Linked DNA regions of Homo sapiens: region 1 is linked to region 2. The links come from fine-mapping of genetic effects on gene expression. Tissue or cell type: whole blood. Region 2 holds a variant in brackets; the other region holds the start of a gene. All regions are shown on one strand. Distances are between the middles of the regions.

The links. PIP is the estimated chance that this variant, and not a neighbour inherited with it, causes the effect.
Region 1: APEH starts here. The variant in region 2 is fine-mapped to the expression of APEH in whole blood (TOPMed, PIP above 0.99).

What each region holds. Positions count from the first base shown.
Region 1 is chr3:49,669,537-49,677,638 of GRCh38, reverse strand. APEH (acylaminoacyl-peptide hydrolase) reads right to left here and starts at 3,288. Exons shown (of 22, transcript NM_001640.4): 1 at 3,226-3,288; 2 at 3,018-3,150; 3 at 2,330-2,456; 4 at 1,852-1,945; 5 at 1,673-1,748; 6 at 1,420-1,583; 7 at 1,124-1,261; 8 at 939-1,030; 9 at 822-862; 10 at 615-736; 11 at 6-66. The coding sequence starts at 3,237. It overlaps BSN (bassoon presynaptic cytomatrix protein), which reads right to left. Exons shown (of 12, transcript NM_003458.4): 12 at 6,090-8,102. RefSeq lists a silencer at 2,994-3,603.
Region 2 is chr3:49,839,787-49,847,888 of GRCh38, reverse strand. It overlaps TRAIP (TRAF interacting protein), which reads left to right. Exons shown (of 15, transcript NM_005879.3): 3 at 281-364; 4 at 3,309-3,348; 5 at 3,961-4,088; 6 at 5,342-5,436; 7 at 5,950-6,063; 8 at 6,817-6,904; 9 at 7,516-7,605; 10 at 8,029-8,102. Among named protein-coding and RNA genes, the nearest start is that of TRAIP, 13 kb to the left of the region's middle. The variant A/G (reference allele first, on the strand shown) is at 3,607.

The sequences.
Region 1 (8,102 bases), 170 kb after region 2:
CTTACCTCCCAGCTGCCGAGGCACAACATCTACCACCACTGAGGTAACCTTGGTATACCAGTCATACTGCAAGAGAACACAATGGTCAGGTCCAGTAGGGGACAGGCAGTTCCCTTAGGGCACAGTGCCCTGTGCCTATCCCCTTTTGCCTCAGGTAGCCCCAGGAGATGGGGGAACTGGAATAAGCCTGATGTATCTCTTTTCTGGTGACCTGGACCAGATGCCCAAGGGGCCTCAGATAGGCATGTCCCTCTGACTTTTACCAGGGGCCCAGAGCTCTTCCTGGGGAGGGTCTGGGATTGTGTAACTCCCCACTATATCCCAGCCCCTTGCAGAGCCTGGCTACATGCAGTTGAGAGCCAAGGGGAGGAGCATTCTTGCAGACGAGCATTCTCTCAAGGTGGAATGCCCCAACAGTGCAAAGCTCTCCATGGCAGCACTCTCAACCTCTAGGCCCTCCTTGAGAGGACAGGCAGAACTCACACCGCTGCTGCATTGAGGACAGAAGGGCACCTACTGAGGGCCTATGGGGAGATGATACTGGCCCTTCAGCTCTCATCCACCATCCCATCTTCTTGCTGACCACCCTCCCATCCCTGCCACCTCCAGCTCACCAGGCACAGCTGGCTGCATTGGTGATGGGGGATCAGAGATGGGTACTGCAGGTAGACAATGCGACATTGGTCTGGGCTCAGCCGGGGAGAAGAGACAGCCAGGGAGTCATCCGAGAGGAGCTCTGGGCCAGATGGAAACATGAGCATCACGCAGGCTGGCAGGGCCAACATGTGTCAGCAAAGCACAGGTGGGCATCAGCCACTTACCACACTTCCCCCCGATGAGGTCCACATAATACAGGGCTGACCTGGAACCACGAGACAGACACTCAGTCTCAAGGCCAGCTGGGCTGCAAGGCCCCTTGCCTTGCCCCACTCCCTCACCTGCGATTGGTGCAAAAGCGGATGCCCAACCGGAAGGGCTCATGCCACCAGCCCACAAACACCACACCAGCATCTCCAGGGGCCCAAAATGCCTGTAAACAGGATCAAAGGGCAGGAGTGAGCAAGGGGTGGTAGCTCAAGAAGGGTCCCAGACTCCAGGGGGGACACAGGCTGTTGCTGCTGACCTGTCCAGGGGACACATTCTCAGGGACCCCCTCAAGCACAGAGATGTTGCCACTCTCGACATCCAGCACGCAGAGCACAGGGATGCTTTTGGAAACCATGTTTTCTCCCCAGTCTTCATAAAACACAAACTGATCCCCCTGAGAACACAAGATACTCAATGCCCAGCCTGTCTATAGGACCTGCTCTGCTTCCTAAAAGCTAGTGCCTCCCCAGGTCTGACAGGCACAGTATGGGAAGGGAGCACACTGAGCCCCAGGGCTGCCCTGCCGGGCCTTCGTGGATTGACCACGAGCACCTTGATGGCTTGGTCTGGCTTCTTCAGCCTGGCTATCTCATCATCGCTGGCACTGACGTCCAAGGCTTTGGTCTGAAAGAAGGACTCGGCCTTGGGGCGCTTCTTCTCTGCCACATACAACAAGTGTGTCTCCGAGTGCGACCAGGACAGGCAGCCAAAGCAGTCTGGGTGCAGGGAGGGCCAATCAGGGGGGGCCCAGGGCTACGGCTACCCCTCCTGTCCACCCTGCCTGCTCACCAGCCAGATGCCTCACCATCCTCATAAACAGGCCCATGTTTCTCCAGCGCTGACAGGTTGAAGCTCTTGAGCTTCCGGTTCTTCTCCCAGACCTGAGGACATCTGGGCATTAGGCTGTTTGCCCGCTAACAGAGCCTTATCTGTGGGGCAGAGCCTCTCTCTTGTCACCCACTACCTGGTCCCATGCAGACTCACCTCCAGGAACTGCTTCTCTTCCCCAGGGCCCGTGCCTCCAGCCTTGCGCAGCACAGCTTTCATGGTGCCTGAAGGAGACTCTCTGCTCAGCAGTCTGTGGACATGGGGTAGCACAGGTCAGGATTATCTTGCAATAACCCCTTCCTGCTCCCTACTGGGCACACCTCTTAGGAGAGATTCTTGAGGCTCTGGCCCCACACCAGCTTCTGGAGCACCTCTAGCCCCACCTTGCCTTTCCTCCCTGAGGCAGAGACTCTACTCTCTGCAACTCCCCAGGCCACCATGGGCTCTAGTCCAGGCTGAGTTTGGAGCAAGCTTCCAGTGCTTATCAGGCCATGTCACCAGAAACTGAATGAGCTCCCAAGGGGGCAAGAACCTGGCTGCTGGCCTCCCTTCTAGGCACATGGTGAGCATTCATAAAAGGCTTGCATTGCGGACGGCTGTGGCCTTGCCCACAAGCTTCCTCCCTCAAACTTACTCCCCCCGGGTCTCCACACTGTTGCCTGCAGGTCCTGCAAACACCACTGAGTCCCCGTCATGGAACACCAGGTATTGGCGGCAGAATCGAATGTTCTCCATGCGTTCCAGGTCCCTCTGGGTCCACTCTGTGAGGGGAGGCATGAGACTGCTCACCTTGTCTTGGCTACTCCTGGCTACTGCCCCCAGCCCCACCTGACCCAGGAAGGCCTAGATCTATCTTCCCCAATCTCTCAATCTGTCTCCAGACACTGACACCCTGGCTGCAGGCTGGACAACACTTGGCCACAACCCTAGTCCAGGCCTCCAGAGCCTGAGCTGACAGCCTCTTTGAGAGAACCCCCTAGTAACCCCAGCATCCACCCTGGAATCTTGAGGGCAGCCTGGCATGTGTATGGGATGGCGTGTTGGTGGAGAGCCCTACAAGGTCCACGCCCTGAGCCCAGGTTTGACTTCTACCCCTACGCCGTCATCTCGTGCACTCATGGCCGCCATTCGATAACGCCCCGCACGCCCCCTCCCCCCCTCCACACACCTGTGTGCAGGGACCTGTGGGAGTGTAACCTCCAAGTCCAGGCCGGCTCCCTATATACCCTTACGCACTGTCAAGCAGCGAGCCCTCCACACCCCCTTCCTTCCCACCCCAGTGCGCGACCCCGTCGCCAGCCAGTTCCCCTTCGCACACACACCAGTGTGCACCGTCCGGTATTGGCCGCCGTACTGCGTGGTGACCTCCGGGCCCAGGCAGGCGGCGCTCAGCGCGGGCTGGCGGCTAAGGCCCCGATACAGAGCCGCCGCCTCCTCGGGCTCGCTCAGCAGCACCTGCGCAGGGGACACACCAGGGTCAGGCCCGGCCCGGGCTGCAGGGACCACGGGGACCGCGGGCCGAGCCCTCACCTGACGTTCCATAGTCTCCTCTCTGCCGCCGGGGCGAGGCGGGGCGTGCTCGCGCCCGGAAGTGAGGCTTCCGGGGGCGGAGCCTGGGACGGCCCGGGCTGTCTCCGCCCCTGCCCTGCGGCAATCTGTGAGGGGCGGGGCCTTCGGCTAATGGGTGAGGACCGTTGGCAGGGGGCGGGCCTTGACGGTGAGAGGACCCGGCCTGGGAGCGAGAAGTCCTGGGTGGGTGAGAGCAGGGGTCTCGCCAGGGGCGGACTAGCCAAGTGGGGGGCGGGGCCGTGGGCTGAGTCCTGGGCCTCTTACCGAGGGGCGAGGCGTTGGATCTCGGAGGAGAGGGGGCGGCCCTGTGGAAGCGGAACCCGGGAGCCCGGCTTCGGGGAGGGTAGAAGGGCCTACGAGAGAAGGGGTTGAGGGGGTGCTGCAAGGCGGAAGCAGCGCGGTCGGACGGGCATGGCCCAAGCACGCGAAGGGCGGGGCCCGAGGGGAATGGGACCAATGAGTCTTTGAGGATGAAGGGCAAGGCGGGCGGGTCCGGATTGGAGCCCTGCGAGGAATGTGGAGCCGGGAGCCTGTGAGCGTGAGCGTGAGCGTGAGCGTGAGCGTGAGCGTGAGGGTGAGGGTTGGGCGGGGCGGAGCCGGCCGCAGCGTGGATCTCCCGCGGCTCTGGGGCTGACTGTAGGGTTCCTTCGGGTCCACCACGAGGCCGACATTCACTACACAGTGCCAGGCCCTGCCCTGGAGGGAGTTCCACGCAGACGAAGAAGAGAAGGGCCAGGGTCCGGGCGGAGGGCGCGAAGCAAAGCCCTGGGGTGCGGGGCAGAGGGGCGGGTGCCAACTCTTAGGGTGCTGCCCGGACTTATCAGTCGCCAGGCCTGCCGCAAGAGCTATCTATCCCCGCAGCCTTTACCCAGCCTTCTCAGTGGCACCTTGTTGGGGACCGTGAGCTGGTGGGTCCCTGCCTTCCTCCCCAGGCCTCACCCTGAGCTCTTGGGTGTGAAAGGCCTGGTGGGCTCAGACTCCACCCAGGACCAGGGAGCTTCCTGTGGAAAAAACCTAGGCAGGCAGGTTCCCTGTGCACGTGGTACAGGATTGGCTGGGCTAAGGTGCCAACAGAGATCAGGAGAGGCTGGACAGTAAGGATGTTCCCTCCATATACCTGAGTCTGGCTGGTCTTCCACATTCAGGGCCCTGGCTCCCTGCTCCATGGCGTGCTTGTGATTGAGAGTCCACTTGTCTGGCCTGTAGCTTCCCCTTTCCCATCAGCCGCATCATTACTTACTCAAGATAACTAGTTAAGTAAAAAAAAAAAAAAAAAAAAAAAAAAAAGTCCCGGCCGGCCGGGCGCGGTGGCTCACGCCTGTAATCCCTGCACTTTGGAAGGCCGAGGCGGGCGGATCACGAGGTCAGGAGATCGAGACCATCCTGGCTAACACGGTGAAACCCTGTCTCTACTAAAAATACAAAAAATTAGCTGGGCATGGTGGCAGGCGCCTGTAGTCCCAGTTACTCGGGAGGCTGAGGCAGGAGAATGGTGTGAACCCGGGAGGCGGAGCTTGCAGTGAGCCGAGATCGCGCCACTGCACTCCATCCTGGGCGACAGCCAGAGTCCATCTTAAAAAAAAAAAAAAAAAAGTGCCAGGCGCGGTGGCTCACGCCTATAATCCTAGCACTTTGGGAGGCTGAGGCGGGTGGATCACCTGAGGCCAGGAGTTCGGGATCAGCTTGGCCAACATGGAGAAACCCTGTCTCTACTAAAAATACAAAAATTAGCCGGGCTGGGTGGCACGCGCCTGTAATCCCAGCTACTCGGGAGGCTGAGGCAGGAGAATCGCTTGAACCTGGGAAGTGGAGGTTGCAGTGAGCCGAGATCATGCCACTGCACTCCAGCCTGGGCAACAAGAGTGAAACTCCGTCTCAAGAAAAAAAAAAAAAAAGAGTCCCAACTTTCTGACGCCACTGCATTTGTCAGTATGTACAGGACTGTATCAAGGCCAGAAACAGGAGTAGAATGAGTGGCCCCAGCCACCAATTTGGGTGGAAAGATTGGAAAATAGGATGTTCATCAAGCATTGTTTATAATAGGAACACTGGGAACATAGTGCCTGTTCCTTAGATTGTGTGTGGTAGACTGGCTATGAACTAATGGTGTATCTCTCTGGAGGTTGAGCACTGGAAGACGAACATTTAAGTACCTGAAATAAACGTGGAAATAAACAGAAAGCTAGAAAACAGGATATATTGCACCTTCTGGCTTCTGTTTAAAATGAAGACTGGAACAACAAACAGGAAAGAAGGACACGCATCAAAATGTTAATTCTGGGGAGAGGGCCAGAGGTGAAGCTGGGATTCCTGTTTATCTGTGTTAAAAAAAAAAAAAAAAAAAAAAAAGGTCTAGCAACTCTGGGTGACTTCGGTAAGGAGGTACTCCTGACCATCTGAGGAAGGCCTAAGGTCTGGCAGCCGGTGAGAGTTTGGGGGTTGGAAAATTCGGAGCAAGGCAGAGAGGTGTAGGGCTTGTTGGCAGCACCAGGGGGCAGCACTTGTTCACTGCCTCCCTGGAACCAGGTCCCAGAAAGCTGTGTATGCAGCCAACACACCTGAAGGCCATGGAGGTGCTGTCCCTCAACAGCCTGCGCACTGACTGCCTGCTCCAGGTCCAAGCTTGGGACCTCCCCTTGGGCACCTTTGTGGAGGGCCCATTGTCTTTGGATGGCTTGGTGTGGACTCAGCCCCGTGCTGTGCCAGCACTTCTGCAACTTTGTCCATCCTTTTCCCTTTAACCATGGACAGGATTGTCGCAAATTTGGGGATTTGCTCCTTCAGCTAAGCCTTCCCACTTGAGAAACCATCCCAGAAACAGTCTGTAGGTTGTTTATATCAAGTCCTTTTATTCTGATACCACAGAATTACCTTGTCACAATACAGGGGGAGGGACACTGAAGTACCACGAGTTCTCACAGAGCACAGAAGGACAGCACACAATTCACAAGGTCATGTGGAGGACTCGGGTCATTGCACTTACAACTGTAAACTTGTTTGTTTGACTTTGTACAGCACTCTTCCCCCCTCAAATAAAGAAGGAGAGAAGGAAAGAAAGGGAGAGAGGGAGGAGGAAGGGGAAAGCAAAAACAAGACATGAAAGCTAGAGGAAAAGGTATTGAGTGGCCACCACTCTCCAGGGTAGTGCACTTGGAGAGAAGGAGCTGATTTGACCCCAGAAACTGAATGAGGCAGAAACACACACACACACACACACGCACGCACGCACGCACATACACACATGATCATGTGCATACACATACAATATCTCACGACTGCCATGGCTCTCCAGTGCCACCCCAGTGCACATGGCAGCAGGGCTGCTGGCACCCAGGGAGACAGAGATGGCATCTCCGAGGAGTTTCAGTTGATTAGGCCTGTCCCTCTAACCCTGTTGGAGTCCATGATGACAAGTATTTACAGCATGGGGGTGGGTAAGAGGAGAGCAGACGGGACAACAGGGCAGGACCATGCTGTCCTGGCAAAGGACCTGCCTGGAAAACTCCCTACAGGCTCCAGAAGGCAAGGCATAGTTGCCACCACTGCTGTTCTTTCACTGTGGGCCCTCAGACCACATGCTCTGCCCAAGGATTGTAGGGGAGGGCTGTCACTGTGAAGTGAGTGCACTGGGCCCTGAAGTGAGCAGAGAGAGGAGGCAATGCCCTTGCTCATGATGCTGGGGAGAGGGGTATGGAGAAGGCCTGGGCTGCATGCTAGAGACTCCTTGCCCATTTGGAGATGTGTCTGTTGCTCTCTACTTTCCAAGGCACCAAGTGCTGGTCCCTCAGCTTCTGGCTGCATTGTCCCCAGAGTCACAACTGCATCCATGCAAGGGCCAGGAAGGACAGTCCATGGACCAGAGGCCTGCTCCAGCCACCTTCACAGAGGGGCGATGATGTATCCTGTGGGTACAGTGGGGGATGAGGAGTGGCAGATGTCAGAATTTCAAACTCAGAGGGCTTGGCCAGAAAGGAAATTTGCTGAAAAGTCAGTACTTTAGAGCCTGAGACTAGGCCTGCTGGAGGCTGACCTCCTAACATTTCCCTGCCTGTTCCCTACTTCTTGTCCCATCCCCTGGCCTGTAGTGGAAAGGACTATTGCCTTGGTCTCCAAGGCACATCCCCACACAGACCTGGTCCTGGGTGGCCAGAGGTGTTAGGTGATGGCTTCCCTCAGCCCTTGCTCAGATGGCTGCATTCAGCCCATACCTGATCTTTGGGATGAGGCAGGTATTCCATGGGTGGGGTGAGGCCAAGTCCCAGAAAGGCAAGGGTGTTAAGTCCAACACAAAGGTTGGCAGCTTCCTGTCCCATCCATAGCTACCAGAGGTGAGCGAGGAGCCCTCTCTGAAGGGGTGTGTAGATCTTATAGAAAAGCATGAGAAATGCGGACCCCTGAGAAATGCATGGTGCAAACCAGAGCACTCTGGACGAAGGTCAGGCCTTGAAGGGTCAGGCAGGTACTGCCTGCCGCACTCCTGGCTCAATGGTAAAAAAGCTGATGAGCAGCGGGACGCTTGGGCTTTGGAGAAGGGGGTGAGCAGGGAGCATAGGTCCTGGGGACAGATGCAGAGAGGGTCACACAGGACCTTCTGTAAGATTTGCTATTGAGAAACTTCACAAGAAACTTAGCTTGAAGCCACTGTTTATATGAACAGTTCCAGATGACCACTGTCAACTGTTCTCACCACAAGTGCCAAAGGCCCAGCTCTTCCTGAGCATCCATTGACCCCCTAGCTCCAGCCCAGATCTCCTGGCTCACAGTCCTTTGAGCCTCCTAGCCACAGAGGAGAGGCATGAAACAGGTGCAGTCAAGAGCTGGGGTCCCTCGGGCACAGC
Region 2 (8,102 bases):
ATCAGTGACTCCGCACCTAGAGTTCAGGTATCTTTTGAGCACTTAACCGTGTAGGTCTGTAGTAATATGACTTCAGTGACCACGAAACCAGCAGCCCCAACTTGGGGTACCTGCAGGAGTAAAGAGGTCTTTTGACTCTAAAGGATGTACTTTGAAAAATTAGGTCTGAGAACAGGCCTGACATGCATGTCAGGCAGGTAGTCAGACCCATGTACAACACTCTCCTCCTTGCGCATGACCCAGCTACACAATCATACTCTTACCTTGTTCTCCCATCCAGGTTGGCAAAAGAACCATTATCAATAAGCTCTTCTTTGATCTTGCCCAGGAGGAGGAGAATGTCTTGGATGCAGAATTCTTAAAGGTACCCAGAATTTATCTGATTCTACTGAACTCCAAGCCTTGTGCGAGTTCACTTTTCTTTTTTCTTTTCTTTTCTTTTTTCTCTTCTCTTCTCTTCTCTTCTCTTTTCTCTTTTCTTTTCTTTTCTTTTCTTTTCTTTTTTTAGAGACAGGGTCTTACTTTGTTGCCCACACTGGAGTGCAGTGGTGCAATCATAGCTCACTATAACCTCAAACTCCTGAGTTCAAGGGATCTCCCCACCTCAGCCTACCTAGTAGCTAGGACTGTAGGGGTGCACCACCATGCTCGGTTAATTTTTTTATTTTATTTATTTATTTATTTATTTATTTATTTATTTATTTATTTTGAGATGAAGTCTCACTCTGTCACCCAGGCTGGAGTGTAGTGGCGTGATCTTGGCTCACTGCAACCTCTGCCTCCTAGGTTAAAACAATTCTCCTGCTTCAGCCTCCCGAGTAGCTGGGACTACAGGCACGTGCCACCATACCCGGCTAGTTTTGTGTTTTTAGTACAGACGGGGTTTCACCTTGTTGGCCAGGCTGGTCTCGAACTCCTGACCTGAAGTGATCCACCCACCTCGGCCTCCCAAAGTGCTGAGATTGCAGGCGTGGGCCACCGTGCCCAGCCCTAATTTATAAAAAAAAATTTTTATAGAGATAGGGCCTTGCTATGTTACCCAGGCTGGTCTTGAACTCTTGGGCTCGAGCAATCCTCCCACCTTGGCCTCCCAAAGGGCTGAGATTACAGGCATGAGCCACTGTGCCTGGCCTGGGAGTTCACTTTCTATTTCCACATAAGTGGAGGGTTCCTGGAATATGGAGATGAAGTTATAGAGGTGAGACTTGGTACAGTTTTCAAGGTGGGGACACAAAAATCAGAGGACAACTGATGAGACACAGTCATCAGAGAAATGCACTGTGAGGGAAGAGGGGAGCTGCTTGACTGTAAACCCTCCCTTTGGGATTTCAGGTCAATTCCAACCTGAATTCTCTCCTGCGGTCTTGTCTCCTCATCTTTTAAAGAACCTACAGCCATCCTGTACAGCCTACTTTGCTGCTTGGACAGTTAGTGACAGATTAGAAAACTCTTCTACTCCCCAGCCACGGGAGATTTTTGGATTCAGTGTTCCCTAGCCTGCCTGTGCCTCAAAATTGCCTGGGGAGGCTGGGCGTGATGGCTCACACCTGTAATCCCAGCACTTTGGGTGACCAAGGTGGGCAGATCACTTGAGCCCAGGAGTTCAAGACCAGCCTGAGCAACATGGGACCCCATCTCTATTAAATAAAAAAAGTTAAAAGAAAAAAAATTGCCTAGGGAGCTTGGTATAAAGTCAGATGCCTGGGCCTTCCCCAGACCAGAGCTCTTGGAATCAAGAGTTGCAGCTCAGGTGGGAATGGATATATTAGGGGAAAGTGGGTAGTTTCCCTCCTATACGTCTAACTGCTTCCCCTCCTAATCTAAAATTTAGCTTTTTTTGTGTGCAAGCAGGCTGCGTTGGCAGAGAACTCTTGAGGAAGTTGGATTTGGGTTCACAAATGATCCCTGGACTCTGAGGGTTAATTTGCTGGATATCTGTCAGATCAGAGTTCATTTGGCTCTGGCCCCAGGGTGTCATGATGTCCTTGGAACCTCACTGCTTCAGGAACATGGAGCTTTTGTGCTTAGAGCAAGCATGTTCATCGTCATGGTAACTGCTCCCAGTTTTAAGTAGTGTCTTCCCTGTGATGAAGGCAACAAAGGCAGTTTCATTTATTTCCAGCTTTCAAAGCCAGGTTTGTGAGACAGGTAGCAACATCTTGGGTAGTTTGGAGCAAGGGCTTGGAAGCCCCTGCTGGAGTGTGGAAGAAGTCAGGGGACTATGGGTAGTGGTGCAGCAGCCATGTCCTGGTATCTGTTCTCAGGCAGCCCTTGCGTGCTCTTCCTTACCCACCACCTCCACTCCCAGCTGTTCAGCCTATGCTAACCAGCCCAGCCACCAGAAGCTCTTGCCCCCAGAGTCCTAGGTGGAGAGTTTGACAGTAGGGGCTTGTTTACCCACTGGGCCTGGGCCATACTATTGGTCACATGTGAAATTCTGAGTCTTCTGTTGATCTTAGACAAGTGATCTACAGTAAGGTTTGCCTGGATTCCATCTAGCTACCACCATGGACCCTTGGTCAAGCGTTTCAGTTTTGTAAAACCTTGGATTTCTTTGTTATGGAGCAGGCACCTCTCTTGCTCATGGGGATGTTGAGTTCTGTGGCATCCTGAACAGGAACTGGGTTCAATTCTGCCACAGCTTCTCAATGATTCTGTGGCATGGCTGTGAAACATTTGCAGGGGCTTTGAGAGGCTCACTTGATCCTCACAATAGTCTAGTTAGAGACTAGACACATGGGAGGTTTCATCCAGGGGTACAAAGCTGTCCTGGCATAGCTACCTCCATTGGATACTAGGTCTGGAAGGTTTGTGGTACACAGAGCCAGTTCAGAGCTTGGAGGAAAGTCGACTATGAATCAGGAAGACCCAGGGTGGAGAGGAGGAGTAGTCGCCCAAGGTCCTTGGCCATTCCTATTGTGTGTCCCTGGTGAGTCAGCTGATGCCCAGAGGGAATGAGACCAACATAGAGCGATGAGGCCAAGGAAGTGATAGAAACTTCTGCTATGGAGACTGATCACAGGGGCCCTACTTTAACTTCCCTTCCACTATTCTACCTCTTTACCTGTCCTGGGGCCTTGCCCCTGAGATTGTTTTCCTCCATCTTACCTACTTTTCAAAAGGGCACATAGAGCTACAGCAGTGCTTATCTTTCCATTGTTAGCTTAGCTTGGCCTTGAGGCACTGCAGGATTCATGCCCTAGAAGGCCTCATTGTTCAATCCTGGGGCTCCCCACAGCCTTATGGGAGACCACGTGGAGGTCAGCTATGATGCTTTCCTGCTGCTTATTGTGGGTATTGCCTTTCAGAATGAACTGGACAATGTCAGAGCCCAGCTTTCCCAGAAAGGTGAGTTAGCAAGAGACGAGGGGTGCTGGGAAGCCCCTGACTTGGATGCTGGAGGAAGGGGGCCCTAGGAGGAAGGTTTCAAACCGTTTGGGAGAGCCAGGGCCTTTCCCTGCTTTGTATGTCCAAGAGTCCTGCTAGCTGTTGTGGTGGGCAGAAAAAGAGAGGGAAGGGAGGTGACTGAAGCTGTTCACCTAGACCAGGTGAGCCTCTTGTCTCTGAGTGCAGCTTCTTGCCCAGGAACCAAGATGGGAGGGGGTT[A/G]CCTGATGGGACTGAATATCTTCGGGAGAGGGCTCAGCTGCTGAGTTTGGCTGGAACCTGCTTGAGTCCTGGGTTGATGAACTAACTGGACCCATGGCAGGTAGGGAATGGGCAGTAAAATATTTTCCTAAGTAGTTCAAGCAGCAGAAGGTGGGCTTTTCCCTGAATGAAGGCTCTGGCTCAGCTTCTCTGGTTTGGCACATCCCAGAGAAAGAAGCGGGCCACCCAGCTTTCAGGCCTGAGCCTTGTTTCTCACCTGCCTAAGGGATGAGGCACTGAATCCAAGGGCCCAAGTTCTTCTGCTGATGGATGGACAGGCCTTTCCCTTTCCTCCGCCCTCTACCCCTGCTCCAGACAAGGAGAAACGAGACAGCCAGGTCATCATCGACACTCTGCGGGATACGCTGGAAGAACGCAATGCTACTGTGGTATCTCTGCAGCAGGCCTTGGGCAAGGCCGAGATGCTGTGCTCCACACTGAAAGTAGGTCCTCAGGTTTTATGGGTACAGAATTCATAGGGAGGTATTGCCCCAGAACTGGACTCCCCATTCTGGGCTTATCTTCTGGTTCTGCTCCAGTCATCACCTTGGTTTGGGGAGTTGTAAAATAGAGGCAAATCACTTCTTCCCCTTGCCCTTCCATACTGTACCCATCCATCCCATAAGAAAAGGGCCATATTGGCTATACTTGTGGGTTTTGTACTAGGTAGTTTGAAGAGTCAAGGCCTTCCCAGTACCTCACAGAGGGGATGCTCAACTAAGACCTCAGTGAGGCTGGGCCATATTTCCGAAAGTGGTTCATACTCTACTGATGAGGCCAGCCTGAAGAACCTTCCATTAGCACTCTAGTCCTTGGCTGGGCTGCTCTCCTGAGCCAGATCAAACAGCATCCTAGGGAGGAGCAAGGGCCTTTGAAGTCAGCTGTGCTGAGCTGACCAACCAGATCAAAGTCTGCAGAGTGAACAGCCTTAGACCCAGATGAATTTTGCATCAGCCTGGGTTGGTGAGCCTCTTGCTCTCCAAGGGGCATGAGAGGCGATTGATCTGAACCCACGATTGATATTCTGGCCTTGTAGGCAGGAGCAGTCCTTGCTGGATGCCATTTGAAAGGGAAAGGGAGCCATCCTTGTGAACAGACAAGGCCCCAGGATATTCATTGTCTCTGTTCCTGCTTGGGGGCTGGGCTGGATCACATGGTCTGGCTGGTGGGAGGGAGCAAACTGGCACCTGGCTGCAGAGCAGGAGTCTCTCATGGTATTCTCAGGTCAGAGACAAGTGGTCTTAGGCTGAAGGCAGCCTGGCCAGCTTCCCCTGGCTCAATTATTCATTCTTGGCAACTGTCCATGGGTCTGGGTGTTGGATGGTGAGGCCTGGGTTTGTGCTCTGGACTTCTTCAGCCACCTGCACAACATGTACCATGAGGCCCAGACCACTGGACCTTGGCAGCCCACAGTGGGCCTGTAAATGCTGGCAGTGGGCTGTGTCTACTGTAAGATACCTTTCAGGAGGAAGCAGGCAGGGAGGTGAAGAAGCAGCTGGCTTAGAGCCTTTTAGAAGAAGAAGCACAAGCGAGAGTGGGACCCAGGAGCTTTACCTCCTGGGGTTTGGGAGTACATGGTTATCAGCATTTTCAAAACATAAGCTGCAGAGAGTTCTGGAGCAGAGTTTTCCTAGTGACTTTAGCAATGGCTCCTGAGGGCCTCCAAGCATCAGGTATGGGTGTATTTGCTCTTCAGAAGCAGATGAAGTACTTAGAGCAGCAGCAGGATGAGACCAAACAAGCACAAGAGGAGGCCCGCCGGCTCAGGAGCAAGATGAAGACCATGGAGCAGTGAGTTTGGAGCTGGGTCCTGCACTGTGCCTTTGCCCCCAGGGCCTGCAAGTGGTACAGTTCTTAGGACTGCAGCAGGGAGTGGGATTGGGTCATGTCCGAGGCTCAAATCTCCATAGGCCATGGAGGGCTCAGGTCAGCTGGGTGTGGGCACAGATCTTAGCCTCTATGAACTCTTCCCCCATTCCAAGGAATGGGAGCCCTTGCCACATTCCTCCCTGTCTCTGCTGCCTGTGGCCAGATGACCTGGTGGGTCTTTCCTTCCAGAAACCTCTCTCCAGGAAATCCCTGACCTTGAGACCCTCTTTCAGCACCTCTTCTTTCTCAGCAGCATCCTTGGAGCTATGCTCATCTCTGCCACAGGGCCTTTCCTTGGGCACACCCACCTACTAAAGCATCCTGGCAGCCTAGCCTGTTACCTTAGCAACGGCAGCAAAGGAAGGCAGAGCGGCACTGGGTACCTACCCATCAGCCTCCAGATTGCAAATGCCGTGGGCTGGGTGTATTTTTCAGGATTGAGCTTCTACTCCAGAGCCAGCGCCCTGAGGTGGAGGAGATGATCCGAGACATGGGTGTGGGACAGTCAGCGGTGGAACAGCTGGCTGTGTACTGTGTGTCTCTCAAGAAGTGCGTACTGTGGCCCCTCTCAGCAAACACAGGAGATAGGCCATGGGGCCCCAGCCGTGTCATTGCTCCCCATCTCTTGTAAAGCAGATGGAACTAAGGGGCAAACTCTGGAGCCATGCTGCCTTTGTTTGAACCCTGATTCCACCTTTCAGCAACTATGTGGCCTGCTGCCAGTTTCTTGGCCTCTTTGACCCTCAACTTCCTGAATGGAAATAGTAGTAGACCTGCCTCATAGGATTGTTGAGGATTTAGTGTGAATCTTAAGTGCTGTTTCTAAGGGAGTTGACCTAGCTCTCTGGGCTATAAGCCCCATTGTGATTGATATGTAGAGCCTGTTCCCCATTAGCACTATGATCCTGCCTGGCTGGGATCAAACTCTACTCATATTCTTCACTCTGGTGGGTGTAAGGTTGGCAGGAAGGGTGGAGGGCCACTTAGCTGAGAGGCATAGAGGGTCCAAGATGCCTCCTTTAAGACCAGGTGGTTTAGGGAGCCCCCTAGTGAGACTGGGGCTTTCTGCATGCCCTCTCAAGTCACCAGTGCCTGCAGGACAGGCAGGAGGAAATAGTCACTTCCTTGCATTCTCTGCAGGACCCTCCACAGTGCCACCTGGTACTTGTTGGGCTCAGGTGTCAAAGTAGGAATGAGAGTGAGTTGAGGGGTTGGGCAGTGCTTTGTGTTAGATTAGTGCTGTGGCTCAGTCTGACCTGCAGGTGTTCTTTTCTGGCATCTCTTTCCATGGCCACATTGCAGAGAGTACGAGAATCTAAAAGAGGCACGGAAGGCCTCAGGGGAGGTGGCTGACAAGCTGAGGAAGGATTTGTTTTCCTCCAGAAGCAAGGTAACTTAGCAGTGAACAGAGGTTGAAGGAGAAGTGGCTCTCCTTTTGTCATGTTCACTCTGGTCTCCTGAGCAAGGCCATGGGACCTGATGGCACAGCTGACTCCCTGGGGCAGCTGGAGGACTTACAGAAATTTGTTACCAGTCCTTACTGGGCATTGGCCTGAATATGTGGCTTGTCCACTAGGGGTGGACAGATCACAGAGGTATCCCCCAACATGTGGACACTGATGCTCCCCTCTGCTCTTCCTGGCTCCTGGGTACCTCTCAGCTGGCTGGAGAGCACAGGCCTCAAATGTGACAGCATCAGAGGCCTATTTTTGTACCACATCTGGAGTAGAAGGGCTCCTGGAACCTGATTCGGTCAGCACAGCTGCTTTTACTTCTGGCATGGTGCATCCACAGGCTGCAGGATGTAGGAAGCAGCCTTTGCTTCTAGGCAGCTCCGGATGTGCATTGCCAGACTGAGGCCTAGCCTCAGAGAGCTGGGATCTCTGCCCATATCTCTAGTCTCTTCTGGGCTACCTTGATCACTCCCTGGGGAGCAGCAGGAGGGGGCAGGGCACAAGGCTACCACTTGGCTTGTCTTTCATTCCCTACACTTTCTTATAGTTGCAGACAGTCTACTCTGAATTGGATCAGGCCAAGTTAGAACTGAAGTCAGCCCAGAAGGACTTACAGAGTGCTGACAAGGAAATCATGGTGAGGGACATCCCTGGCTTGACAGGAATGAGGGGTGGTTTGTGTGCCCTCCCAGAGCAGGGCTGGGCTATCTCTGCCCAGGACCCTTGCACCAGTCAGTGGTGGTTCTGGGCCCCTGCATCCTCCTGGGTCAGGGTGTGCCCCTTGGCCCTGGTCCGGACTGGAGCCTGGGCCTCCTCAACAGAGGGCAGACAGAACCATGAGTCTTCCCTCATAGTCTGTCCTGCACTTACATCCCTGAGGTCCCTTATCAGAGGAGGGGCTCTACCTGGGGCTTGGCCTCCTGAGCCTAATGATGAGGTATCAGGCCTTGCTCTGTTCCCAGTGGGCTGGCCTTTCATGCATGCTGCTCATGTCCTCTGCATTATCTCCGGACTTGATGCCTCAGCCTTTCTCTCACACACTTTTCTTTCCCTCCCCAAGAGCCTGAAAAAGAAGCTAACGATGCTGCAGGAAACCTTGAACCTGCCACCAGTGGCCAGTGAGACTGTCGACCG